Linked DNA regions of Homo sapiens. The protein of the gene in region 5 purifies or fractionates together with the protein of the main gene of each other region. This does not show direct contact. Each region holds a gene or a part of one and is shown on either strand. Other genes may lie near its edges. The genes, in order: DNMT1, ZC3H15, RPL21, SRP54, DNAJC2, GNL3 and PPP6R1.

Evidence for each region.
Region 1: the proteins of DNAJC2 (region 5) and DNMT1 fractionate together in Homo sapiens (co-fractionation; one large-scale study listed by BioGRID). This does not show direct contact.
Region 2: the proteins of DNAJC2 (region 5) and ZC3H15 purify together in Homo sapiens (affinity purification with mass spectrometry; 2 studies listed by BioGRID and IntAct, with this or other methods). This does not show direct contact.
Region 3: the proteins of DNAJC2 (region 5) and RPL21 purify together in Homo sapiens (affinity purification with mass spectrometry; 2 studies listed by BioGRID and IntAct, with this or other methods). This does not show direct contact.
Region 4: the proteins of DNAJC2 (region 5) and SRP54 purify together in Homo sapiens (affinity purification with mass spectrometry; one large-scale study listed by BioGRID and IntAct). This does not show direct contact.
Region 6: the proteins of DNAJC2 (region 5) and GNL3 purify together in Homo sapiens (affinity purification with mass spectrometry; 2 studies listed by BioGRID and IntAct, with this or other methods). This does not show direct contact.
Region 7: the proteins of DNAJC2 (region 5) and PPP6R1 purify together in Homo sapiens (affinity purification with mass spectrometry, with the first as the bait; one large-scale study listed by BioGRID). This does not show direct contact.

Annotation. Positions count from the first base shown.
Region 1 is NC_000019.10:10,132,846-10,135,953, forward strand, and holds the end of DNMT1 (DNA (cytosine-5)-methyltransferase 1), read right to left. Parts: intron 3,008-3,108; coding exon 2,891-3,007; intron 1,463-2,890; coding exon 1,372-1,462; intron 857-1,371; coding exon 822-856; 3' UTR 501-821; downstream 1-500. UniProt on the Homo sapiens protein: Methylates CpG residues. Preferentially methylates hemimethylated DNA. Associates with DNA replication sites in S phase maintaining the methylation pattern in the newly synthesized strand, that is essential for epigenetic inheritance.
Region 2 is NC_000002.12:186,484,823-186,489,059, forward strand, and holds the start of ZC3H15 (zinc finger CCCH domain-containing protein 15), read left to right. Parts: upstream 1-1,437; 5' UTR 1,438-1,560; coding exon 1,561-1,635; intron 1,636-4,237. UniProt on the Homo sapiens protein: Protects DRG1 from proteolytic degradation. Stimulates DRG1 GTPase activity likely by increasing the affinity for the potassium ions.
Region 3 is NC_000013.11:27,250,279-27,254,357, forward strand, and holds the start of RPL21 (large ribosomal subunit protein eL21), read left to right. Parts: upstream 1-1,279; 5' UTR 1,280-1,307; intron 1,308-3,486; 5' UTR 3,487-3,498; coding exon 3,499-3,565; intron 3,566-3,941; coding exon 3,942-4,003; intron 4,004-4,079.
Region 4 is NC_000014.9:34,981,783-34,985,791, reverse strand, and holds the start of SRP54 (signal recognition particle subunit SRP54), read right to left. Parts: upstream 2,801-4,009; 5' UTR 2,577-2,800; intron 1-2,576. UniProt on the Homo sapiens protein: Component of the signal recognition particle (SRP) complex, a ribonucleoprotein complex that mediates the cotranslational targeting of secretory and membrane proteins to the endoplasmic reticulum (ER).
Region 5 is NC_000007.14:103,317,268-103,320,767, forward strand, and holds part of DNAJC2 (dnaJ homolog subfamily C member 2), read right to left. Parts: intron 2,578-3,500; coding exon 2,489-2,577; intron 2,412-2,488; coding exon 2,342-2,411; intron 1-2,341. UniProt on the Homo sapiens protein: Acts both as a chaperone in the cytosol and as a chromatin regulator in the nucleus.
Region 6 is NC_000003.12:52,692,015-52,694,997, reverse strand, and holds the end of GNL3 (guanine nucleotide-binding protein-like 3), read right to left. Parts: intron 2,263-2,983; exon of another isoform or gene 2,186-2,262; intron 2,127-2,185; coding exon 1,952-2,126; intron 1,812-1,951; coding exon 1,669-1,811; intron 1,591-1,668; coding exon 1,454-1,590; intron 1,367-1,453; coding exon 1,191-1,366; intron 962-1,190; coding exon 895-961; intron 806-894; coding exon 723-805; 3' UTR 501-722; downstream 1-500. Other genes in the region: GLT8D1 (glycosyltransferase 8 domain-containing protein 1), read left to right, coding at 1-153. UniProt on the Homo sapiens protein: May be required to maintain the proliferative capacity of stem cells. Stabilizes MDM2 by preventing its ubiquitination, and hence proteasomal degradation.
Region 7 is NC_000019.10:55,242,018-55,245,517, reverse strand, and holds part of PPP6R1 (serine/threonine-protein phosphatase 6 regulatory subunit 1), read left to right. Parts: coding exon 1-26; intron 27-115; coding exon 116-253; intron 254-267; exon of another isoform or gene 268-332; coding exon 333-398; intron 399-3,029; coding exon 3,030-3,142; intron 3,143-3,238; coding exon 3,239-3,352; intron 3,353-3,500. UniProt on the Homo sapiens protein: Regulatory subunit of protein phosphatase 6 (PP6). May function as a scaffolding PP6 subunit. Involved in the PP6-mediated dephosphorylation of NFKBIE opposing its degradation in response to TNF-alpha.

The DNA.
Region 1 (3,108 bases), on a different chromosome or scaffold from region 5:
ACTGCACTACAGCCTGAGCAACAGAGCAAGACTGTCTCAAAAAAAAAAAAAAATTCTTTGGAAAGAAAAAAAACCCAACTAAAGAGGTTTTGCTTGGGGATGGGGTGGCCGGGGCTCCAAGGGCAGCTCAGTGGTGACTTCTCTCTCCTTATTCCACCAGTTGCAGCACAGAGCTCTGCCTCATGGTCACAGGATGGCTGCTCCACTGCCAGGCATCACAACCCACTTCAGACCAAAGAAGGCCTACCAGCCACGGGGAAGGCCAGCCAAGACTTCCTTTAAAAGGCTTTCCTGGAAGCTACACTAGCAAGTTCCATTTGCATGTCATGGGGATCAACTCACGTGACTCAGTTCTGAACAAACACAGACAGACACACGGAGTGTCTAGCTTCAAACGTGCTAGCTTCAAACTCCACGTGGGTCGCCTTCAGCATGGAAGAGCTTGTTCCTGTCTGACCTCAGCCAGAAGTCCCGTGCAAATCACGAATACCCACCCAGGGTGGTTTATAGGAGAGATTTATTTGAAGAAATATTACAACATATAAAAACTACATAAAGTCTTAATTTCCACTCATACAGTGGTAGATTTGATATAATGCATAATAAAAAACTTTTAAAATCCAGAATGCACAAAGTACTGCACAATTTGATCACTAAATCATTAGTTGATAAGCGAACCTCACACAACAGCTTCATGTCAGCCAAGGCCACAAACACCATGTACCACACATGTGAACGGACAGATTGACATGTTAAAAACACAACATCAGTGCATGTTGGGGATTCCTGGTGCCAGAAACAGGGGTGACGGGAGGGCAGAACTAGTCCTTAGCAGCTTCCTCCTCCTTTATTTTAGCTGAAGGGAAATAAAAGGAAAAGTCACTCTGGGGAACACGCCCGGTGTCACGCCACTTGACAGGCGAGTAACAGACATGGACCATCAGGAAACATTAACGTACTGATGTTAACAGCTGACCCAATAAGTGGCAGAGTGCTAAGGGAACGTTCACGGAGACTGAACACTCCTCAAACGGTCCCCAGAGGGTTCTAGACCCAGAGGCTCAAGTGAGCAGCTGAGGCAGGTGCCTGCTGAGCCAAATTCACCGAGCAGGAGTGAGGGAAACGGCCCCAGGGCCAGCCCAGCAGCCAACCTGACCAAAGGCCTGCTGTGTGCAGCACGCCTGCTCTAAGCACTTGACACGTGCAACTCACTCAATCCTCACAGCAGCCCCTTGAGAAAGATGGGGCCACGAACGTGGGTAGGTGACCCGCCTGAGTCCCAGAGCCCAAAACGGTGGCCAGCAACTGCCCCCACATGTACCCCCAGAGGGCAGTCAGGCCCCAGAGGAAGCCTGGCCCACCCCACCATACCTGAGGCACTCTCTCGGGCTTTGGCCAACATACAAAGCTTGATCTCCAAGCCAATGGCTTTGGCCAGGGGCGGTGGCACGGCATTGCCCACCTGCAGGAGGGGAGAAGGGCAATGCCTGATGTGGACACCCAGGCCCAAGGCCCGGGGGCAGGTGTACTGCCAGCCCCTGCTCAGATGGAGGACAACCTGGGCATTGCACCCCTTGGGGAAGGGTTCTGGTCCTGCTCACATGGGCCCAAAACCCTTCCAGCACAAGATCCTTGGACCCTCCAACTGGCCCATCATCCCGCCCCACAGCCACAAGTCACTGGGCCTTTGAAGAGCTTCAGAAAGACTTGAGACAAAGACACGTGGGGCTGGGAGCAGTGGCTCACGCCTGTAATCCCAGCACTTTGGGAGGCCAAGGCAGGTGGATTAGTTGAGGCCAGGAGTTCGAGAGCAGCCTCGCCAACATGGTGAAACCCCGTCTCTACTAAAAGTACAAAAACTAATTAGCTGGGCATGGTGGCACATGCCTGTAATCCCAGCACCTCAGGAGGCTGAGGCAGGAGAATCACTTGAACCCTGGAGGTGGAGGTTGCAGTGGGCAGAGATCATGTCACTGCACTCCAGCCTAGGGGACAGAGTGAGACCCTGTCTCAGAAAAAAAAAAAAAAAAGACAAATGGGCCACCTAGACACGTTTCGCTCCCAGTTAAGAGTGGCTGCTTCCCTGGCCGGCGCAGTGGCTCATGCCTGTAATCCCAGCACTTTGGGAGGCCGAGGCAGGCGGATCACCTGAGGTCAAGAGTTCGGGACCAGCCTGGCCAACATGGTGAAACCCCATCTCTACTAAAAATACAAAAATTAGCCGGGTGTGGTAGCACATGACTGTAATCCCAGCTACTCAAGAGGCTGAGGCAGGAGAATCACTTAAAACCAGGGGGGTGGAAGTTGCGGTGAGCTGAGATCACGCCACTTCACTCCAGCCTGGGCGAAAGAACAAAGCTCCATCTCAAAAAAAAAAAAAAAAAAGAGAGAGTGGCTGCTTCCCGAGAACCAGATTCGGGGGGAGGGGTGAAATGTGGTTTTCACAAGAACCGTGGACACTGGTTTTTAAGCAATGCGCGTGCCCTATGATGAAAATACACTTAACTGAGACTAACTCATAGACTAACTTGTTAAGCCAACCCGACACCTGAGAAGCAGGTAGGAATTAAGGTGCTAGTTCATTTGAACCTACAGCGAGTGAGCTGTCGCCACCATGGGTTTTAGCCTGCTCCTTTAGCGCGACGGACTGTCCTTCTGGCTCAATCTCTGCCTCAAAAACAAACAGTAAGGAACCAGCATAGGGACGCAGCCTGACTCGGATGTCTCAGCACTGTCCCTCCTGTGGGCCGTCTTCCCACTGAGAGTGATGGGGCTACCCGGCAGCCAGCAGGCGTCCTCCCGGAAGTGACTGCGCTGGCCCCAGCCCCACCTGGTGACAGGCACAGAAGCCTCCTTCCTGTCCAGACCCAGCGGGCGCCGCCCCACTGACCTGCCGGTGCTTGTCCAGGATGTTGCCGAAGAGCCGGTAGGTGTCAGGGAAGCCCTGGGAGCGGGCACACTCCCGCACGCTCACCACACGGTGCTGCTCTGGGTGGAGCACGCGGCCCTGGGGGAAAGAGGCGCGGTGGGCGAGGGCAGTAGCACCCAGGCCGGGTCACCGTCGGGGACAGGGAGGGAAATGGCACTGTGACAGCATACGGCCATGGC
Region 2 (4,237 bases), on a different chromosome or scaffold from region 5:
GAGTAAAGAGGGGGCTGGCTGCATCCCTCCATCCTCTGACAAGAACTATGACAATTACAAAAAATAAAGATGAAAATATGTAAAAGGGGGGGAGCCCATTAACCTGCCAATATGAGCCCAAATGAAAAAAAGTGTGTCAACATACACCTGCCATTCTCGACACAATTCTTTTTAGTAGCTATCACATTTCTTCTACACACACACATACACACACAAAACATACTTGGGGTTCCTTGACATTATCTTACGTAGAAAATTACTAAGCAAATAATCAATTTGACTAAGTAGGGGGGCTTATCGTTTTCTCCCTATTCAAATTAATGAAAAAGATAAAAAAACTTTTATCTATAAAGATGATTCTTGGTTCCACAATGCTTCTTAACAGAAATAGTTTAAACAATAATCATTTTAAAAAATAACAGCTAAGCATTGTACATTTTTAAAAAATAGTATTTTCGTTTGTACAAATATCAATGGGTCCCATTCATCATTCAAGTACCTTTTCAAACAGGATCTAAGTTTGTAATGTTAGGTAATAGGCATATAGGCTGAAGCCGGACTGCCAAGATTACAATTGCTGGCTCTGTCCTTAATATAACTTTGGGCATCTTTCTTCCTTTCTCTGCTTCATCTATAAAACGAAAACAGTAACAACTCCCACCTAAGTGTCGTTGTGATAACTAAATGAAATAGTGTGTGTAATGTGCCAAGGAATTTCTGGAGCTACCAAGCACTTAAACTAAGTTCTAACTAAGTTTGGTTACTTTCACGTTATAAAGGAATTTTTAGGAATCACCTAGGCACTCTCCTAAAGTCTCAAAATAACTTAATACAGTACTTCTAAGGAGTTCAAGTGCCTCCTTATCTGGGACGCCATCTCAGATGCTCTTCAAATGAAAGGGACCCTGCAAATGAAAGTTAACTTTTTCCATTTTTTAAATAATCCTTCGCAGGAATCTGAAGCACGCGACACTCACGGGCCATTCAGCTCCGCCTCTCCAGGGAACAAGAAGGTTAACTGAGTAACGTGGTCACGGAGCAACCCCGAGTCGCTGCGGCTGCTTAGTAGTCACTCAGGATGGGGATGGTACAGGGGACCATTAACTGGCCCGGCAGGAAAAGTTTCCCGGTGAGGTGACGATGGACAAGAGTCGCCCCATCGTAAGCGAAAGTGGACTGAGAGGAAGCACAAACGCATGGACTCAACCAGCTCGCCCAGATTCACCCTCAGGCCTTTTGCCATCTGAAAAGGGCCTATCGGATGCGCGACATCACGAGTGACGCGTAGTCATTTTCCCACGTCCCGTCCCTGCCCCCTCCTAGTGGGACGCAGTGGGCGCGCACGCGCAGCTCCGCTTCCGGGAGCCGCTCCTCGCTACCCACTATGCTCTGCGACATCGACCTGTCGCAAAGGCCGCGTTTGCGGGGCCAATGAGCGACTCGCTTTCCGTGCGGTGCGGCGAGTGAGGCCCCGGTCTTCCTCCTCGTCCTGCCGCAGGGCCAGAACCCCTGACGGTATTCAGCTGCGCGTAAGTCTGGCCGGTGCCATCTGTCTCCGCAATGCCCCCCAAGAAACAGGCTCAGGCCGGGGGCAGCAAAAAGGCGGAGCAAAAAAAGAAGGAGAAGATTATCGAAGTGAGTACCCACCCCTCCCCCACTCACGCCGCGAGCCCTCCGGAAAGCCACTTCCCCGCTCCGGGCTTCCCTGGGAGCCGGCTCGCTTCCTCGGGCCACGTGTTCCTCCCTTAGGCCTGTGTGGCCCACTGCCCCTTCTCCAGCCCCTGATGACGCTAGCTCTCTCATTACTATAGTGACGCTGCTGGCGCCCCCGCACCTGGGCTTTGCCTCTCCGCCCACACGCCCGTGTTCACCCACCCATGCACCCGGGTGCGAAATGACCCCTCGGGACTGGCACAGGGTTTTATCCTTCGCTAGTCCTCTCAGAATTGAGGAGATTTTCCAAGGTTATGTGTGAAGAAATACGCTGAACGGTCTCGGGCCAGCGTCTTTCTGGAAGACCGACTCATGACGAGTCTTTGTGTTCGTTATTTCTTTACCCGTCACCCAGGGATGGTACTGTTAGTTCTTTTGAACCAACAAATTACGACTTGGTGGCTTTTTCGATCCACCTCTGAAATGTTTAAAGTCCCATAAAGAATGGAAGGACTTTCCGTCACAACCCAGGGTCTTGAACGCAGAGCTTGGTACTTACATTCTGAAGTGGATTAAATAGGATAACGCCTTAAAAGAGATTAGGTTTCAGTGTCACTAATTGTGTGAAGTCCCGTAACCCAGTTTGAGATATATGTGTGTGTGTGCGCGTGTATATATGTATACATCTATGTGTGTGTATATGTGTATATATGTGTGTGTATATATATTCGTTTAACACATTGAGCCTGTAGCCCTTTAATGGCCAAGGAACGCTATTGACGTTCTTACATGTTGTGCACTTGTTTTCCAACAACTGAATTGAGTTTCCTTAAAAGATGAACCATATTTGACATTACGTAAACATACCATACAGACCCCAACGAGGTATTTCTTCCCTCGATTTCTGCTATTAATCCTCCTCATAATTAAATAGGACCTCTTGTACTTTGGATATAATTAGAAAAAGCCATGACCATTTTACCGCATAAGGTGTAAAGTCTGCTCATTGGATTTAAGAAAATGCTTAAGAATTTTGCTATACTTGGCCAGGTTCCAACTTTGGAGGAGAACTGGTATTCTTATTGCCAATTTGTACAGTTTAAAACTGTCATGAAGTACTATAGCCAGACACTTAAAAACAAAATATTACCTTCACATCTGTGTTTTCTATTACCTTATTTGAACAATCTGGATTCGTGGCACTTAGGTAAATTTCAGGGGTTGCTGATCGGATGGCATTCACTTTTATGAAAACCAAGGACATTTTAGGGATGTCGTTTTCCTCGAGATTGGACCCTGATACGAAGTAAAACTCCCATTGAAATTAAATGTTATGTAATAATTTAGACAATTTAAATTATACTTCATGCATTGTAGAGCTTTCTCTATATCTAATTGTTTTATTTTTAATTAGTAGGACTAGTATTCTTATTTTAAGGAATTATGTGTGAAAGTTGTTTATAGTATCCATCAACTTTTAAAATGATGCATATGTTATGATTCTAGTCATCTTGTGACGAAATTATTTTTTAGCTAAAGAGAAAGCAATTTTAGTTTCAATAATGAAGGTATCTCCAAAGAAAAATGCAAAATAAGACAACTGCACTTTTTAACTAAAAATATTAACAACAACAAAGTGGTGAAATTAAGCCCGATTTTGTGTTTTCTACATTTAATATATATTATTTTTTTAATTTATTTTTTGTTGAGGTATAACTTATGTAAAATAAAATGTACAGGTTCTAGATGTATAGTTCTATGTGTTTTGAGGAATTTATTCACCCAGGTAGCTGCCACCCTAATTAAGACTTGAAACATTTCTATCACCCCACTAAATTTGTTTTGTGCCTCTTTCTATTTAATTCTTTCCACACGTGCAGCCACTAATTTTTTTGACAGGATAGATTAGTTTTTACCACTCTAGGAACTCATATAAATTATACAGTAGGTAGCCTTTGTGTCCTTCTTCTTGCTTTCACACCATGCAGTGTTTTTGAGATCCATGCATGTTGTGTATATTTCTAGTATGTTCCTTATTGCTGAAAAGTATTCTCTTGTATGGGAACCATTACAATATGTCACCTTTTGTGTTTAGTGTCTCTCTCTACTTGGAGGAACCAAAAGACGTTATAATTGACGCTTGAAAAACAAACTTAGGATTCCAAAATGGGTTAGAGGCGGTGTTTGTTAAAATCTCGGCAGCCAGAATGGATTATTTTGTGGCTAATGGAGTCATCTGTAGGGACCTTAACCTTGGGGCATACGCTGAGTTGGCATGAGAGTGTCCAATCATCTGTATACATTAGAGCTACAGGATAGGCATCATTAGGGGATCTGGGTGGTGTGTCTATTTCTCTGGGAAGGACTGGTCTTGACTACACCCTCAGTTAATTGCAGTTGTTGAGCTTCTTGCTTTTGCTGAATATGCTTGCATTTTGCTTTCTTGTGTTTTGTGCTATCATTCTTTAACCTAACCTGCAGTACCGTTGGATGTATGTCTTTGAGGCCATTTCTTTCTGAAGACTGAGGTTTGGGTATGGGTTCTTAGTGAACAAGATGTTCAAATATTCCATTTGTTTCTCAG
Region 3 (4,079 bases), on a different chromosome or scaffold from region 5:
GGAGACATCATAACTAAATGTAATGTGGTATTCTGGATGGAATCCTGGAACAGAAAAAGGGTATTAGGTAAAACCGAAGGAAATCTGAATAAAATGTGAACCTTAGTTAATAACAGTGTAAAATATTGGTTCATTAATTGCAACAAATGTACCATATTAGCATGAGATGTTAATAATAGGGGAAACTGGATGCTGGGTATATGGCATTATCTCAATTTAAATAAACTACATTAAGAAAATAATATCTATTTTTAAAGGTGTAGTGAATAAAACAATGGCCACCCATATATTTAACACCCGGTTTAATAATGGTCAATACAGTTAAAGCCTCCCTTTATTGTCCCCTCCTTACCAGATATGACTGCTTTTCTCAACTTGATTTTCATTCTCTTGTATTTCTTGACTTCTTTAACTACATATGTATGCATAACTAAGCAATATATAGCATTGTTTTACAAGTTTTAGAGTTGAATGTATATGAATTGTCATACTATTTATTTTTCTACATCTTTCTCTTTTTGCCTCATCACATTTCTGAGTTCAGTCTTCTTTTATTGGCGTATAATACTACATCCTAACATCCCATAAGGTATTTATTCTGTTATTGATGGACGTTTCTAATTTTTTGCTTCTACCCACAGCGCTGTTACGTACATCCTTGTTCACTTACCAAAGTTTCTACAAGACATATAGGTAGGAGCAGAGTGCTGGGGTTTAGTAATTGAAAACTTTTACTAGATTTTGCCACATTGCTTTCCCAAAGAGGTTTTAACATTTGCGCACCTACTAGCAGGTGCGTATGTTTAGACGTGTGGAGGAGAAACTATTTAAAGACATACAAACTAGATAATATACTTGCTTCATTCTCGTTTGACCTTCGTACCCAAGCAATTATTTCTGCAAACAAACAAATAAACAACTACTAATAGCACTTCCCGCACCGCCAGCCGCAGTTTTCCCTGCGGAGACGCGGATACAAGGCAGCTTCCGGCGAAGGCGGTGACGCAAAGGATGGCGTAAGCACGCTCGGGACGACGGCGTCCTCTTGATCGCCCTTGAAGGCCCCTTTCCGGGCTGTCTGACACGATGCAAGTGTCAGCTTGTGTTGGCCGGTTGCCTTTCTTTCGCAAGAGGGGAAAATATCCTCACAGACTTTCTGTGTTCTCAGAGACGATCTTCTTCCCTAGAAAGAAGTCGCTTACGGTTGGCGTTTCCCTCAGGCAGCGCCGTGGGCAGCCCACAGGCCCTTGTAAGGCGCGCGCCGCGGCCCCGCCTCTTTCCTTTCGGCCGGAACCGCCATCTTCCAGGTAGGGCCTACGCGTGGCTCCCGGGCGCTAGGTGTTCGACAGACTTGAACCGCGACCTTGTGGCCTCAGAGGTCGTTCATTGGGACCGTGGGGAGACTCTCTAACCTGTTTGAGGTCCATTGGCATGGGCGGGTTAAACCATGTTCTGCCAGACGGGGAGCAGCGTGCGCCGGGTCGGGTCTGGGCCGTGGGCTGAGAACCGGACTGCGATGTTGCGGCCCTGCGGGGGGACATTTGCGAGAAAGACGAGACTGAGTCGCTTGGGGTGAGGCGACTCGAGTTAATCTTTAAAAGACTTCGTTTTATGTTCCCGTGGCTGCATCTCCGGTACTGTGGGTGGCCCCTCTCACATAGGCTGTGTGGGGGCCGCGTGGCCTGATGCCTTTCTAACTCCTTTCAGTGTGGCTTTTTTATTCCAAATCTTGCGATGATGTTGGGTGAGGACTTAAGGGGTAGTAGGAATGGGTTTAAAGTCAGGCGTCGGCTTTAATCTTCTGTGAAGCCTACAGGTGTGAAAACCCGGGCTCTCGGTCGGAGAGTGGGTCCCGGAGTCGTCCTGGGTGATGAACCCTCACTGCCCTTAGTTAATGCATAAGACGATTTCCGACTGTTTTTAAAATTTTGACCCCACATGGTGATCGGACGAAGGGAAAGTGTTTTGAGGTTGCAACACCAATATTTGCACCAAGAGGAGATACTGTTTTGCGAATTCTAGGGCAGCATGCTTTGAGTGAAGGGAAACATTTAGCCATAGTTCATCATTTTGTCTAGTTTGTGGACGTCAACAGAGTCGAGCAAACTGCAGGTTGCTCTTTATGGTGGATCCTAGTTGCCATGATTTTAATACTCTTACAAACTGTAAAGCATCGTTTTGAAAAGTGCCTTCAGTTTTAAGTGTATGGGGTCCATGCTTAAAATGGATTCCAAACTCAGAAAGATGGATCTAGTGGAGGATTATGGGCTCTGGAATCAGGAATGAGTTAACTGATTATGCCACTTGGTGATTCCACAAAGTGACTTGAATCTACACAGTATCACCCTTTGTGTACTAACTTAGCACAAGTTTTTGGAACTTTATACACATCTAAAGGCTTTGGGGATTGGAACAGAGTACCTGGCATTTAAAGGGTTCATCCATTGTAACAATGGTTTGACTTTGGTGAGTTAGGTGAAACATGTCTTCTTGCTATACAATTTTTATAAAAATGGTACTTTGGGAGCCATTCTTAAAGGATTGTTGGTAAACTTAGAAACCAAATTGTGTTAGAATATTGTCAACACGTCAAGCCTGACTGCTGTATTTTACCTTATGGTAGGAGTAATGGCCAGGAATGGCATTTCTGCCCTATAATGACTAAAGAGCTATCAAAACTATTGTTTTGGCCTTTTTGGGAAACAAAGGAAAGGTTAATTTCTAAATGCCTGTAGGTGAATTCTTAGATAATGATAAATTAGCTGCCGGTTACTACTGAGCACTTTACACGGGCCAAGCATTGCTGAGTTCTTTGTAGACATTACCTCAGCTACGAAAGTGTTCACCCCTATTTTACAAATGAAGATGAGAGATGAAATGTGGGTGTCCCAGCTAGTAAGTGGCAGAGCCTATGTCAAATTTAGGTCAATGATTATAAAGCCTGGGTTCCCCTCTCTTCTACCCTATATACGTTCGTAGTAAATAATCAGAAATGTGAAGTGGCTTGAGATTTCTGATAGTTAAATAGATGATGTTTGAGATACACCATCACGGAAAATTTGGTTGACAAGAAAGGTTTAATTCACATAAAAATGTAAGGCTGTTTTATTGTGTTCTCCACTAAATTATCTTCTAGTTAGTAATTACATGCCCTTGGCATTCTAAATTGGGTTCTACAGATAGAGTGTGGTAGAAGTCCTGTTGTGTTTTTATATTCTCATAGAGAAAGGGTACTAGTTTGGATTCTCGTATCAAGTTCTGCTCCTTAAGAGTTTTGATGTTATAGAACTTGGGCAGTTTTGCCAAAAGACCTTACTTGCTAAAATAATGATTTTTTAACCTTTCAACAGAACTAACTGCTTGGTGATCCAGCTTTCAGTTTGCAGTTCTCACTTCGCTACTGAAATGTGAACATTTGAAATTACAGGGGTTTGGGGCAAATGCCAGTTTTCAGTCGTATTTGACTGTTCTGCTTTCTGGTTTCAGTAATTCGCCAAAATGACGAACACAAAGGGAAAGAGGAGAGGCACCCGATATATGTTCTCTAGGCCTTTTAGAAAACATGGTAAGTAGGTTTACCTTCCTTGAGAGAAGCATGGCACACATTTGTGTTCTGTTGTGTTCAACATGTGTTGTAGTTCATAGAATGTGTATCAATAGAATTAAATAACTAGCGTCTACCCAGCTTATTTCGTGATAAGGTAAATAAATTACCAAAATTATATGGTGATTTTGTGACTAAGTATTGATGCAAGATTAAACTTTGGAGAGAGGTTGTGATTTAGTAGGCTGATTGTGCTGTCAGGAGAAATTGTCCATTGGGAAGATAATAAGCATGTAACCATCAAAAATGATATATGTGTTAAAAGCTAGTAAAATTGCATTTCTTTTACTCTAGATTTTTAGCCTTAATACTCACTATACCAAATTTATTTTTGTAGGAGTTGTTCCTTTGGCCACATATATGCGAATCTATAAGAAAGGTGATATTGTAGACATCAAGGTAAACATAAAATTGGGAAAATAACACTACAGAAGATAGAAAAGTTGGATTTAATCTAGTGTAGGAATTCAAATAC
Region 4 (4,009 bases), on a different chromosome or scaffold from region 5:
CATCTAAATTCTTAATCTGGAGTGCAAAACAAGACATTTATGTTTTGAAAACTTTCACTAGCTATATTGATGTGCAGCAAGGGTTCATAATCACTATATTAAGTATTTAATAACATGTCCCAAAGAAAACAACAGAATGAGAAATCTGTTCTATACCTTAGAAACATCTTTAGATACAGTGTAACAAATACATTGGAGGGAAAAAACTGAAGAGCCAGGACACTACATGCACTACCCATACTCCATAAGGCTAGTTGAGACAAGATGTGGCCTTGAACTAGAGAAAAAGAAACTAGGGTTAAGGGCTAATTCATGAAGCAGAATCTAATGACCAAATGGTTATGGCAAGTGAAGGAAAAAAGAGGCAAAAATGATTCCAATATCTCTAGTTTTTATAACCAGATGGCTAGTGATGCCATTAACCAATGAATGGAAGGCAAAAAGGGAAGGTGGTTTGAAAGTCAGAGGAGTTAATAGAGAAGAGGTCAAAGGGACTTAATGTATTATTTTTAATGTTTCACTTTTTATGAAGGATGTGTACATAGATGTTCATTTCATTATCCCTCCAACTAGCTGGGACTACAGGCGGCGCCACTAAGCCTGGCTAATTTTTGTCTCTTTTGTTGAGACAGGGAGTTTCGCCATGTTACCCAAGCTGGTCTCGAACTCTTGAGCTAAAGCAATCTGCCAGCCTCAGCCTCCCAAAGTATTGGGATTACAGGCGTGAGCCATTGCTCACAGCCCTTATAATCCTTTTAAAAATTTAACCTACTTGTATCACAAAATTCAACCAGAGGTCAAAACTCAAAAACGCACTGACAATCACTGCTTTTATACACTTTCGTATGCATGACATATGTCATAGTGAAAAAAAAAAAAAAAAGGAAGGTGAAGACAGTGCATTTGGTTTTGGACCTAATGAGTTTGCAAGTTTTAGGGGAAAGTACAGAACTATCAACTCATGAGATGGAGGCTAAAGAATAAGGTTTAGGCAGGGCATGGTGGCTCACACCTGTAATCCCAGCACTTTGGGAGGCCGAAGCAGGCGGATCACTTCAGGTCAGGAGTTCAAGACCAACCTGGCCAACATGGTGGAACCCCATCTCTACTAAAAACACAAAAATTAGCTGGGCGTGGTGGCAGGCACCTGTAATCCCAGCTACTCGGAAGGCTGAGGCAGGAGAATTGCTTGAACCTGGGAGGCGGAGGTTGCAGTGAGCCGAGATGGTGCCTCGGTACTCCAGTCTGGGCGACAGAGCAAATAAGGTTTGGAAAAGAACAAGGTTTGGAAATGAAAAGAATAAGGTTTGGACATGGTTGGCATATAGGGACAATGCCATGGAAGCAAGCGAGAAGCCTCGAGGAGAGCCTGTGGAAGACCATTTGGGTTATAGCAATGACTGAGGGCCAACTAAAAGGACGGCGTTAACCAAGACTGAAAATAACCAAAGAGATAGGAGCTTTTACTAATTCCCTTTCCCTTTCTCCATGGCACATAGGAGAAAATCAATTTTTAAAAAGCTACATTTATGGTTATCTTACTGTAATCCTGTGGCAGGTCCAGAATTTCCAAATAGATGGGGACAGAGGAGTAATCTGGAAGGAAGACTTGAAGATGCTTTTGCATAGTACTCTATATTAAGGTAGAAAATACCAGTTGGCCATATCAAAAAACTGAGAAAAAGCGATTTGAGGGAAATATTTCCCTCCCCTTTGGCACCACGATTGCTGTATTCTAGGCACTAAACCAAACCAAACCTCTTACCTAATCTCCTTTCTTCCTCAAAACAAGCCTATTAAGTAGATGAGGAAATTGAGGCTAGATTGGAATAGAAACTGGCTCAGGGTCACAAAGCACCTAAGGAGCACTTTAGCTCTCCCACAGCTTTCTACAGCTCTTTATATGCAACTAGTGTTTCTCATTACCCATCTTGATATAATGTGTATTTATGTGCGTTAGCTTCTCAATGGCAGAGTTAGTGTTATTCATTTCTGTATCCTTGTAGCCAAGAACAAGTATATATTTTGTTAAATTAAGCATGTGAAAGAATCAGGTGAGGATAGCATGAAGAAAGGCAGCAGGGGAAAGTTTCAAGAAATGGATGGTCAGCAGCGTCAAATGGTACAGAGAGAGCTATCAGTCTATCTTAAATCATCATTGGCATTCAACTGATATTCCATATTCGTTTATTGAACGTCTACTACACGCAGGACATTGTGTTAAGCACTACAAACACATAGGAAAAATAAAAGTCTCGTACAAGTAAAAGGATTTTCGGGGAAGTAGCTTCATCTAAATTCTTGCTCAGGAAAGCAAAACGAAGACTCAGGCCTGCAACTGCCTACATCTTATTTGGCTCAGGTAAATCGGAAGACAACTCAAAAGGGGCACAGCGCATCTTTAATAAAACTTCTCATGGAAGACGAGATAAAGAGCCACAGAAACTCAGTCTCGGTAACGATGGCCGGTGGCCACGGAGGCCGACTTCCCCCGGAGTCTCTCGCCTCCTGAGCAGCGCTGGGGCTGCCCCTCGCTCCCCCTCCGTAGTCTGGGGCGGGAAAAAGCAGACACTTACCGCAAAAGACACCGCTAAAGCCGTGGCCCTGAGGGGCCGGGAATTCCTTAGCGAGGCCCCACGCCGTCGGAAGAAACCCAAGAAAGCTGGGAGCAGACAGACAGGTATGACCCCACAACCCAACTTCCCGAACTAGATAAAGTAGGGTCCCAACGCCCAGCACCACGTCGTCAACTCCCACCAGCTGGAAGACCAACGGAGTGCCAGCGAACCTTCCGCCCAATGAGGAAACGTCACCACTCCGCGTAGTCCAGCCTTTCTATAGGAGAATCTACTTCCGCTTCCGGGGCACACCGCCGCGTTCCTTCTACGCGGCTCCTGAAACAGTTTAGATGTTTACTTGCTTACACTGGTTTTTGGTTTCAGTTTCCTACCGCTGAATAACTGCAGGAGTAAAGTTAGTGGTAAAATAGGAGGCTGTCTAGGGACGTGATTTCGGGGAAGAAGTCAGGCCTCGACGAGCCACCTTAAGAAAAGTGACTAGGCGGAGCACTCCCAGCTAAGAGCGGAAAGATGAGAGATAGAGGTGTGACTGAAGGCAGGGATCCCCAGGCGCACGTGAGACCTCCGTAGAGGGGCGGGGCTTAGGGCTTTGCAGACCGGAGGCTTGTTCCGCGGAGGGTGGGGCGGTCTCTGCTTGCGCATGCGCAATGCCAGCCAGTGCCTGCGCGGCTTGCTCCAGCAAGGTAAAATTTCCCACTGCGAGGCAGGCAGTGATGCTGCGGCCGCTTCGCACTGTGGCTCCTGCCGACCGCCAGGCGCTGTTACAGTGGATGCGAACTAACCGTAAGTGTAAGTGACCAGAGCTAGAGGCAGGTGGTGGGGGCAAGGATATGCTGCAGGCGCTGACTTTGAGGACTTAAGCGGGGTGAAGCCAACAGCCTTCCTTGGGATCGTTGTGCTGGTCTCTGCTGTCTTGGGGGGTAGATTGACCAGGGCTTTGAGTGCTCTAACGGAAAAGAGAGTTAGTTGCTCGCCACACGTAGACACCAATTAACAAGAGCGAGCCCTAGTATACAAGAAGAGGGATTTTATTTCTGAAGCCAGCCCGCTTCGTCTTTGGAGCAAAAAAGCGGGCATTTTATAAGGTACAAGAGGAAATGAGCAAGAGGTCTCTGCTAGCTGGTGCCTTATCTACCGGGTAGTTGAGTTGGTGCATTTCTGAGCAGAAATAAGTTGTAAAAGTGGCCAAGTGGGCATGCTTTCTGCTTACCCTTCTGAGGCGACCGCCTGGCGGTGGGAGTTGCGTCTTGGATCTCGTAGATGAATTTGCTCTGTAGAGAATGGTCTGGTGAGGGGAGTTGAGAGGTTATTTTGCAGTTCAAAAAGGGCTAAGTGGAAAGTGTAGTGGGGAGGGGAAAAGAGGGGAAAAAATAAACTATCTCTTGGAAAATGGGGGTAATCGGATACAGTACCACTTGGAATTAATTGGG
Region 5 (3,500 bases):
TAGCCTTGGACACTAATTGACAAGTCTGTGGGTCACTGAGTTATTCATCCACAAGGCCATTTCAAACCTCTCTTCAAACTCATATTCACCCTTTCTGCAGACAATCTCATTTATTCTCTACCAAAAGGTGAAGGCATAGCAAAATGGCCTCTTTTATTTTGAAGCTCTACCATTTACATTGTTCCTTCTAGACTACCTTCAAACATGCACAAGTAAAAAAAGAACCTTTATTTGCCCTTGTTGCTTCTGTCAGCTGCTATCTTAAGAGTCAGCTTTGGCTCATTTCTCCCCTTCAATCCCTTAGAACCAGTAAAGTCCCAATAATGCTAACCTTGAAAAATTTTTTTGATTCCCATCATCACATTCATAGTGCAGGTTCTTTTTCTTTCTTTCTTACTTTTGAGGCAGAGTCTCACTCTGTCGCCCAGGCTGGAGTGCAGTGGTGTGATTTCTGCTTACTGCAACCTCCGCCTCCTAGGTTGAAGTGATTCTCCTGCCTCAGCCTCCCAAGTAGCTGGGATTACAGATGCCTGCCACCATGCCCAGCTAATTTTTGTATTTTTAGCAGAGATGGGGTTTCATCATGTTGGCCAGGCTAGTCTCAAACTCCTGACCTCAGGGGATCTGTCTGCCTTGGCCTCCCAAAGTGCTCGGATTATAGGCATGAGCCACCACGCTCATAGTGCAGATTCTTAAATAAATAAGATTCTTGTAACTAGTTACATCTATCTGATGCACCTTATCCACAAACGTCAGATTAGTAGTACAATGTTGAACCTTCTGTTAATCAAAGATTTGCAGTAATGGAAACTAGTCAACAAGGTATTAAAAACCTGATCATTGGTTCTGCTTTTCCTAACTGATTTTGTTTCCCACTCCATTTCCCCATAACATTTTTTTTTTGTCTGTTTTTTTTGAGACAAAGTCTCGCTCTGTTGCCCAGGTTGGAGTGCACCGACATGATCATAGCTCACTGCAGCTGTGACCTCCCAGGCTCAGGTAATCCTCTAACCTCAGCCTCCTGAGAAGTTGGGACTACAGGTACACGACACCATGCCAGTTAATTTTTGTATTTTCGGTAGAGATTTTGTTTATGTTGCCCAGGCTGAACCATACTTTATACTTCTACTTCTATTTTATAGTTTGTGGTATTCTTCTGACCTTCATTTTAACTCTGTCCTTCCTTTCAGGCTGGTTCAAACTACACTGAGCCTTCCCTGGTCACTAAAACTTGTGGCCCTTCCTATCCTACACCTCATTTACTATGGGCTCTCCATCTTTTGGTCCTTAAGGTTCTTCTCAGGTTCTTCTCAGCATGTCCTTTGTGGTGCAACAGCATTAGGCATTTCTCCAAAAGAACCTAGGCATAGTGCTATATATAGTAGGTACTAATACTTGTTGAATTGAATTGAATTTCTGGGCCTGTTTTCTTATCTGTAAAATAAAAGGTATAGACTAGACAGAACAAAGATCTCTTTTGGTTCTAACTGTTATTACCCTATGAAAATACTCAAGGAATAATCAAAACAATTATTTTTTTCTAATATGATTTTGCAAAAGCTATGCTTGTGATAGATACCACAAATCAAACACTAAGTATGGTAAAAACCATAAACATCTAATCCAACTTAAATCAACAACAGCACCTTACTACATAAACAAAATGCAGACTGGGCATGGTGGCTCATGCCTATAATCCTTTGGGAGGCCAATGCGGACGGATCACTTGAGGTAAGGAGTTTGAGACCAGCCTGGCCAACACAGCGAAACCCTGTCTCTAGTAAAAATACAAAAATCAGCCGGGCATGGTGGCACACACCTGTAATCCCACCCGCACTCCAGCCTGGGTGACAGAGAGAGACTCCATCTCAAAAACAAAAACAAAAACAGGCTGGGCGTGGTGGTTCACACCTATAATCCCAGCACTTTGAGAAGCCTACATGGGCAGATCATGAGGTCAAGAATTCAAGACCAGCCTGACCAACATGGTGAAACCCTGTCTCTACCAAAAATACAAAAATTAGCCAGGTGTGGTGTTGTGCGCCTATAATCCCAGTTACTCAGGAGGCTGAGGCAGGAGAATCACTTGAACCCGGGAGGCGGAGGTTGTAGTGAGCCAAGATCGTGCCACTGCACTCCAGCCTGGGCAACAGAGCAAGACTCTGTCTCAAAACAAAAAACCAAAAAACCGAACACATAAAACAACAACAACAAAACAGTGGGAAACATAAAGAGAAATCAGATACTCCCTGCACTTGGTGACTTATATATTAGGTGAAGAAACAGGTCAAAGCAGAATTAAATGCTACATATAGGTAGGAGTGATGTGTTCCTCTATTACCTGTTTTTCCAAAGCAGCCTTTCCTACTTCTTTTGTGCATGATGTGAGTGTTTCATTCAAGCACTGTAAGCTAAAGAAAAAAAAAGAAGAAATGAAACTTTATCCTAAGCTCAAGTGAAGACTTCAATAGCAGTTCCATAGGTATACCTTGCCAGTTCAAGCCGATCACAAAGTTTTTCCACTTCTTCCATCATTTTAACCCGCTCTGCCTCATTATCAGAAAAATGATTCCAGGTCTAAAAGCACAAACACAAAAATAGTATCTACACTCAAAAATACATCCATCAACATAATTACAAAGCTGTAATCCCAGCTACTCGGGAGGCTGAGGCAGGAGAATCGCTTGAACCTGGAGGCGGAAATTGCAGCAAACTGAGATCACGCCACTGCACTCCAGCCTGGACAACAGAGCAAGACTCCATCTCAAAAAAACAGACAATGACAACTGAACAGGTATAATTTTATCTCAGTGTAAATGTTTTTAACTTTTTCTTTTCTTTGAGACGGAGTCTCACTGTCGCCCAGGCTGGAGTCCAGTGGCACGAAATCGGCTCACTGCAACCTCCACCTCCCGGGTTCAAGCTATTCTTCTGCCTCAGTCTCCTGAGTAGCTGGAATTACAGGCGCCTGCCACCACACCTGGCTAATTTTTTCTATATTTAGTAGAGACGGGGTTTCACCATTTTGGCCAGGCTGGTCTTGAACTCCTGACCTTGTGATCCACCCGCCTCAGCCTCCCAAAGTGCTGGTTACAGGTGTGAGCCACCGCGCCCGGCTGTTTTTAACTTTTTCTAAATTTCAGGTGTACATATTTCAGTTTTCAACCCTGATAGTTTTTTTCTAAACATAATCATCTTACCATTATCAAACCAAAAAACAAGTTAATATTCTAAAACTGTCCCAGCACTTTGGGAGGCCGAGGCAGGCGGATCGTGAGGTCAGGAGATCGAGACCATCCTGGCTAACACAGTGAAACCCCGTCTCTACTAAAAATCCAAAAAATTAGCCGGGCGTGGTCCCAGCTACTCGGGAGGCTGAGGCAGGAGCATGGCGTGAACCCAGGAGGCGGAGCTTGCAGTGAGCGGAGATTGCGCCACTGTACTCCAGCCTGGGCGACAGAGCAAGACTCTGTCACAAAATATATATATATACACATATA
Region 6 (2,983 bases), on a different chromosome or scaffold from region 5:
AAGGCTGCCAAGTTACTCCATTGGAATGGACATTTGAAGCCATGGGGAAGGACTGCTTCATATACTGATGTTTGGGAAAAATGGTATATTCCAGACCCAACAGGCAAATTCAACCTAATCCGAAGATATACCGAGATCTCAAACATAAAGTGAAACAGAATTTGAACTGTAAGCAAGCATTTCTCAGGAAGTCCTGGAAGATAGCATGCGTGGGAAGTAACAGTTGCTAGGCTTCAATGCCTATCGGTAGCAAGCCATGGAAAAAGATGTGTCAGCTAGGTAAAGATGACAAACTGCCCTGTCTGGCAGTCAGCTTCCCAGACAGACTATAGACTATAAATATGTCTCCATCTGCCTTACCAAGTGTTTTCTTACTACAATGCTGAATGACTGGAAAGAAGAACTGATATGGCTAGTTCAGCTAGCTGGTACAGATAATTCAAAACTGCTGTTGGTTTTAATTTTGTAACCTGTGGCCTGATCTGTAAATAAAACTTACATTTTTCAATAGGTATCTTCTTTTTTTATTCCAGATAACTACTTCCACTCACAATGAGATGAATTGTCTTTTTACAGAATTTAGGGATTCCAAGTTGCCTGGTTTTAATATAATACATATTCACAAAATTTACACAGCTCATGCATACCATAACTTATACAGAGAACAGTTTAGCAGTCTGCTTAAAATGTTAAAAAAAAAATCATAAAAAGCCATTGTTCTGTTACACATAATCTGTACTGAAGTCATAAGCATCATCCTCTTCAATGATTTTATCCAAGATAAAAGACCTTGTAGACTGTTCACCTATATTGCAGGAAAATAAAGAGATTTTCAAAAAGTAAAAGTGATTCTATACCATGCTGCTTCGTTAGAACCCCTTTTGCCTGCCTCACCTGCTGTAGTCTCCTCAGACAGTGCCTCCCCTGTCTCTTCTGCAGCAAACATGCCTGAGCTGTTTTCCTGTGTGACAAAGAAAAATAGTGCTGGATTAGTAGCCCTTGTCTGCTCATTTAATCCAAGTAGTTATGTACCTGAAAAATTAACTCTTTGGAGGTACATATAACGGGATGTGCAAAATTAAGGCTAATGGATCACAAGCCTCAAATATTTCCTATCTTCAGTTCCTTCCATTATGTATTATAATGCTAGAAAACTCACTTCAGTTTTAACTCATGGAGGACACACTTACATCAACTTCTTCATCAACAGTTTCCTGGTCACTGTCTTTGTCATCCTCCCTCTCCTCCTGCTTCCTTTCTTTCCGTTTTGGCAATTCTTCATGTATGTCCTTTTCTTCTATTATTCCATTTGTCAGACCGGAAGACTGGAAAAGGATGCTATTGGCCAAATGAGGGCCCTTGATGGCTGGGAAAGAAAGCAAGCCCATGTAAACAGGTAAGAGCTCCACTGGCCTGTCAGCTGATGAAGACAGCAGCGACACACAATTCTCACCTCTTATGCTCTGTGCATTGTTCTTTTCCAGTTCTTCCAGATTGAAGCCGCTTTTCATGTCTACCACAATACTCTCATTAAAATATGGAGGAGGAGTCCAAGATGTAGGGGGATGGCAATAGTAAGCTAATGAGGCACTGATATTAAAAATAAGATGTGTCAAAAGAAGGTTTATTCTAGTGGTCACCAAAATGCCAACAGAAAAGAAAGCTTACCCTGTCCACTCAGACCACAGCAGTTTGGCAGCACCTTCAACATTTGGGATTCCACCTTTTTGGTGCATACCTCTTCTCTGAGCAAGCACAGTAAAAAATTCCAGAGAATTCCTGTAGCCTGGGACAGTATATTTCAGTACTACCTTAAAAAAAAAACCAAACAAAGGAGCTGTCCTTCATCTGACATGCCAGTACTTTAAAACACTTCCAAGATTTTTCTACTCAAAATGCTTATGATGAAAGAAGATGGCTCCAAGGAGCTCATGAGAAGGGGTCCTTTTACCTGTCGAGCATCAGCCTGGGAAAGGATGGCACTGGCAGCCTCCATCGGTTTTACTACTTCAATACTTGCTGGACTTCGCAGAGCAAGCGCAGAGGAGGAATTAAGTGGAGATACGATGAAGCTCGGACTATCTATGATTGTGATCTGTTTGTCCAAGGGGACAACTTGCATGCTCCTGAAAGAAGAGCGATGGAATTGATGGGGGCATTGGTCTATTTGGAGGTTAAGAGACAGAACATGAAGCTCAGGGTTGGATTGAACAGACTCAGCACAGTCAGTCAGATCCAGTTTATCATCATTTGCTTCACATTTATCTAAAACTGTAACAGCATACCCGACTGTTCTAAAGAGAACACTACATGTTATAGCTTATATATTTACATCAACCAAAACACATGCTATTTCCTTTGCTATAAATATGCCACCTTCTGGCTGGGCGCGGTGGCTCACGCCTGTAATCCCAGCACTTTGGGAGGCCGAGGTGGGTGGATCACCTGAGGTCAGGAGTTTGAGACCAGCCTGGCCAACATGATGAAAGCCCTGTCTCTACTAAAAATACAAAAATTAGCCGGGTGCCTTTGATCCCAGCTACTCAGGAGGCTGAGGTTGCAGTGAGCCAAGATAGCACCACTGTACTCCAGCCTGGGAGACAGACTCCATCTCCCAAAAAAAAAAAATCTAAAAGTTGGCCAGGCACAGTGGCTCATGCCACCCAACACAAGTGTAATCCCAACACTTTGTGAGGCCTAGGCGGGTGGATGACTTAAGGCCAGGAGTTTGAGGCTAGCCTGGCCAACAGTGAAACCCCATCTCTATTAAAAATACAAAAACTAGCCAGGTGTGGTGGCAGACTTCTATCTGGCAAATTTCTATTAATTTCTCAAGGCCAGGTTCAAACATCACTTCCTCTGAGGGAGCTTTCCTCTCTCTCAATCTATCTGCTGAACTTGTCTTTCAAACTAAATTGTGGGCAGCTGTCCCACTCCAATCAGTTCTAGCACTGGCTTAAATCTCTGCTTTCACCAAAAGCTT
Region 7 (3,500 bases), on a different chromosome or scaffold from region 5:
TCCTCATCAACCGCAAGACAGACCAGGTGCCCTGGCCCCCACCCTGGCGCCACCGTGGGTTGAGGGGTGGTGGCTGGGCCAGGCCCTGTGCATGACGCAGCCCGTGTGCCCCCAGCTCGTGTCCTTTCTTCGGAAGAAGGATGACTTCGTGGACCTGCTGCTGCAGCACATTGGCACCTCGGCCATCATGGACCTCCTGCTGCGCCTGCTCACCTGTGTGGAGCGGCCTCAGCTGAGGCAGGATGTTGTCAATGTGAGCAGGGCCGGCTCCTCTGGGGGTGGGGGGCTGGGCGTGGTGGACAGCGATGCATCCCTCGCCTTCTCACCCTCAGTGGCTCAACGAGGAGAAGATCGTCCAGCGGCTGATTGAGCAGATCCACCCGTCGAAGGATGAGAATGTGAGTGCTGCCGATGCCCCTGCGGATTCCCCTTAGAGTTCCTTCCCCATGCCCACTTCCCCACTTTTAAAAGAGGAATTGGGGCTGGACGCAGTGGCTCACGCCTGTAATTCCAGCACTTTGGGAGGGCGAGGTGGGAGGATTACTTGAGCCCATGAGTTTGAGACCAGCTTGGGCAACATAGTAACACCCCGTCTCTACGTAAAAACTTAGCTGAGTGTGGTGTTGCACACCTGTAGTCCCAGCTACTTGGGAAGCTCAGGTAGGAGGATTGCTTGAGCCGGGAGGTCAAGGCTATAGTGAGTCATGATCACACCACTGCACTCCAGCCTGGGTGACACAGTGAGACCCTGTCTCAAAAAAAAAAAAAGAAAGAAAAGAAATTGGTGAGAAAAGAGAGCATTGAGAACCAGGTGTATCCATGCCCTTTGAGAAAAGGAAAGAAACTTGACTCAAGTGATTCTCCCACTGTGGCCTCCGAAAGTGCTGGAAAGGTTTTTTTCATGACCCAGGAACTTGGCACATAATGCCTTGCAGGGAGGGGCCCTCCTCATCGCCTGTCCAAGCGCTGGCCCCACATCCGTCCCTGCCCACCCTGGCCTGTGCTATTGCTGGGCCTGGCAGCTTTTTCCCTGTCTCCTGCCTGATTGAACCCCTTGCTGTCCTTCTAAGTGTCCGTCCAGCAGCCTTGCTTTCAAGCGCCCTCACATCCTCCCCTTTAGCTCTGGGGGACCCCATGTCCATGTGTTTCTCCAGCTTGGGTCTCCATCTCTGTCCTGGTGCCCAGCACAGGGCCTAGTGTAGAGTGGGTGTTTGTCAAGAGCCTCAGATATCCGAGGCCACTGGGAGCAACATGTCCTTCCCAATGCCAACTTCTGCCTCAGAGGCGCACAGGCTTACAGAGCAGAGATGGCTCTGGGCTCACCCAGGCTGGGGCCTGTCCCTGTGAGGACCCTGAGGCATGGCCCAGGGCCACACTGCCAAGCCCTGGCAGCTGCCCGTTGGGTAGACTCAGCTCTGCTTATGCTTCTCTCTTTTCTCTCTTTTGTAGCAGCTTTACTGAGATGTAAATTGCACAGCATACCACTCACCCACCGAAGCTTACGATTCAGCGCTTTTAGGGTATTCAAAGCGTTTATCATCTTGTTGAATTTAGATTATTTTTTATCACTCCAAAAAACAAGTCCTGCCTGTAATCCCAGCGCTTTGGCAGGTGAGGCTGGAGGATTGCTTGAGCCCAGGAGTTTGAGACTAGCCTGGGCAACATAGCAAGACGTTGTCGCTACAAAAAATTGAAAAATTAGCTGGCATTGGTGGTGCACACCTGTAATCCTAGCTACTCAAGAGTCTGAGACGGGAGGATCTCTTGGGCCCAGGAGTTCAGGGCTGCAGTGAGCTGTGATGGCACCACTGCGCTCAAGCCTGGGGTGATGTAGAGGCCGTGTCTTTTTTTTGAGACAGTGTCTTGCTCTGTTGCCCAGGCTGGAGTGCAGTGGCGTGATCTTGCCTCACTGTAGCCTTGACCCCCCTGGGCTCAAGCAATCCTCCTGCCTCTGCCTCATGAACAGCTGGAACTAGAGATGCACACCACCATTCTTGGCTAATTTTTTTGTATTTGTAGAGATAGAGTTTTGCTATGTTGCCCCGACTGGTCTCAAACTCCTGGGCTCAAGTGATCCTGCCACCTTGGCCTTTCTTTTTTTTTTTTTTTTTTTGAGATGGAGTCTCGCTCTGTCTAGAGTGCAGTGGCACGATCTCGGCTCACTGCAGCCTCCACCTCCCAGGTTCAAGCGATTCTCCTGCCTCAGCCTCCCGAGTAGCTGGGACTACAGGCGCCTACCACTGCGCCTGGCTAATTTTTTTATTTTTAGTAGAGATGGGGTTTCACCATGTTGGCCAGGCTGGTCTCAAACTCCTGACCTCGTGATCCACCTGCCTCGGCCTCCCAAAGTGCTGGGATTACAGGCGTGAGCCACCGCGCCCGGCCCCACCTCGGCCTTTCAGACTGCTGGGATTATAGGCATGTGCCATCACACCCAGCCGAGACCCTTTCTCCAGAAAAAATAAAAAAGATGCCCTGTGTTCATTAGCAGCTCCTCCTGATCTTCCCCTTTCTCTTCTTAGCCCCCGGCAACCACCAGACTATTCTGTCTCTGTGGATTTGTCTTTGGACATTTCATATAATTGGAATCATGTACTACGTGATCTGTGTGTGGTTTCTTTCTCTAGCATGATGTTTTTGTGGCTCATTCATGTGGTTGCATGTATCAGTTTCACTCCTTTTCCTGGCTGATTAGCACTCTCCTGTGTGGATAGACCAGCTTGGGCATATTCACTCATCAGTCAGAGCCTTCTGGGTCATTGTGGGCGGTGCTGCCAGCCCTGTATGCGGTCATGAGGGCCTTGTGTGGATGCCTCCTGTCCTGGGGAGCCTTCCGGGCTTCCTGTTCTCTCCACCATCTTCCCTCCAGCAGTTGGTGCCTCTGTGCCCTCCTCCTTCGTAACACGTGTCCCTGTGTCTGGGTGACCATTTTTCCCTGGATGGTCAGCTCATGGGAGGGGCTCCCAGCACCAGGCTGCAGAGGGCCCGGTGGCCCGACCAGGATCCTCACCTGTCTCTCCCCGTTCCAGCAACATTCCAACGCATCCCAGTCCCTGTGTGACATCATCCGCCTGAGCCGGGAGCAGATGATCCAAGTCCAGGACAGCCCAGAGCCTGACCAACTGCTGGCCACCCTGGAGAAGTGGGTGTGCGGGCAAGGCTAAGGCTGGGGGGAGCTGACTTGGGGAAGCCCTGGGCCCCTGGCCCCTCACCCTGACCCCTGCCCCTGCCCCCGCAGGCAGGAGACGATTGAGCAGCTCTTAAGCAACATGTTCGAGGGGGAGCAGAGCCAGTCTGTCATCGTCAGTGGGATCCAGGTGCTGCTGACCCTGCTGGAGCCCAGGAGGCCGAGGTGAGGGATACGGGCCACAGACCATGCATGCTGCCCATCCCCAGGGGCTCTCCGGCCCCTCAGAGGCGGGTCTCGGTGTCCACCAAGAGAAATCCCCGCCCGTGGCACCTTGCTCTGTGGCTGCCTGTGCTCCCTGCACAGTGGACAG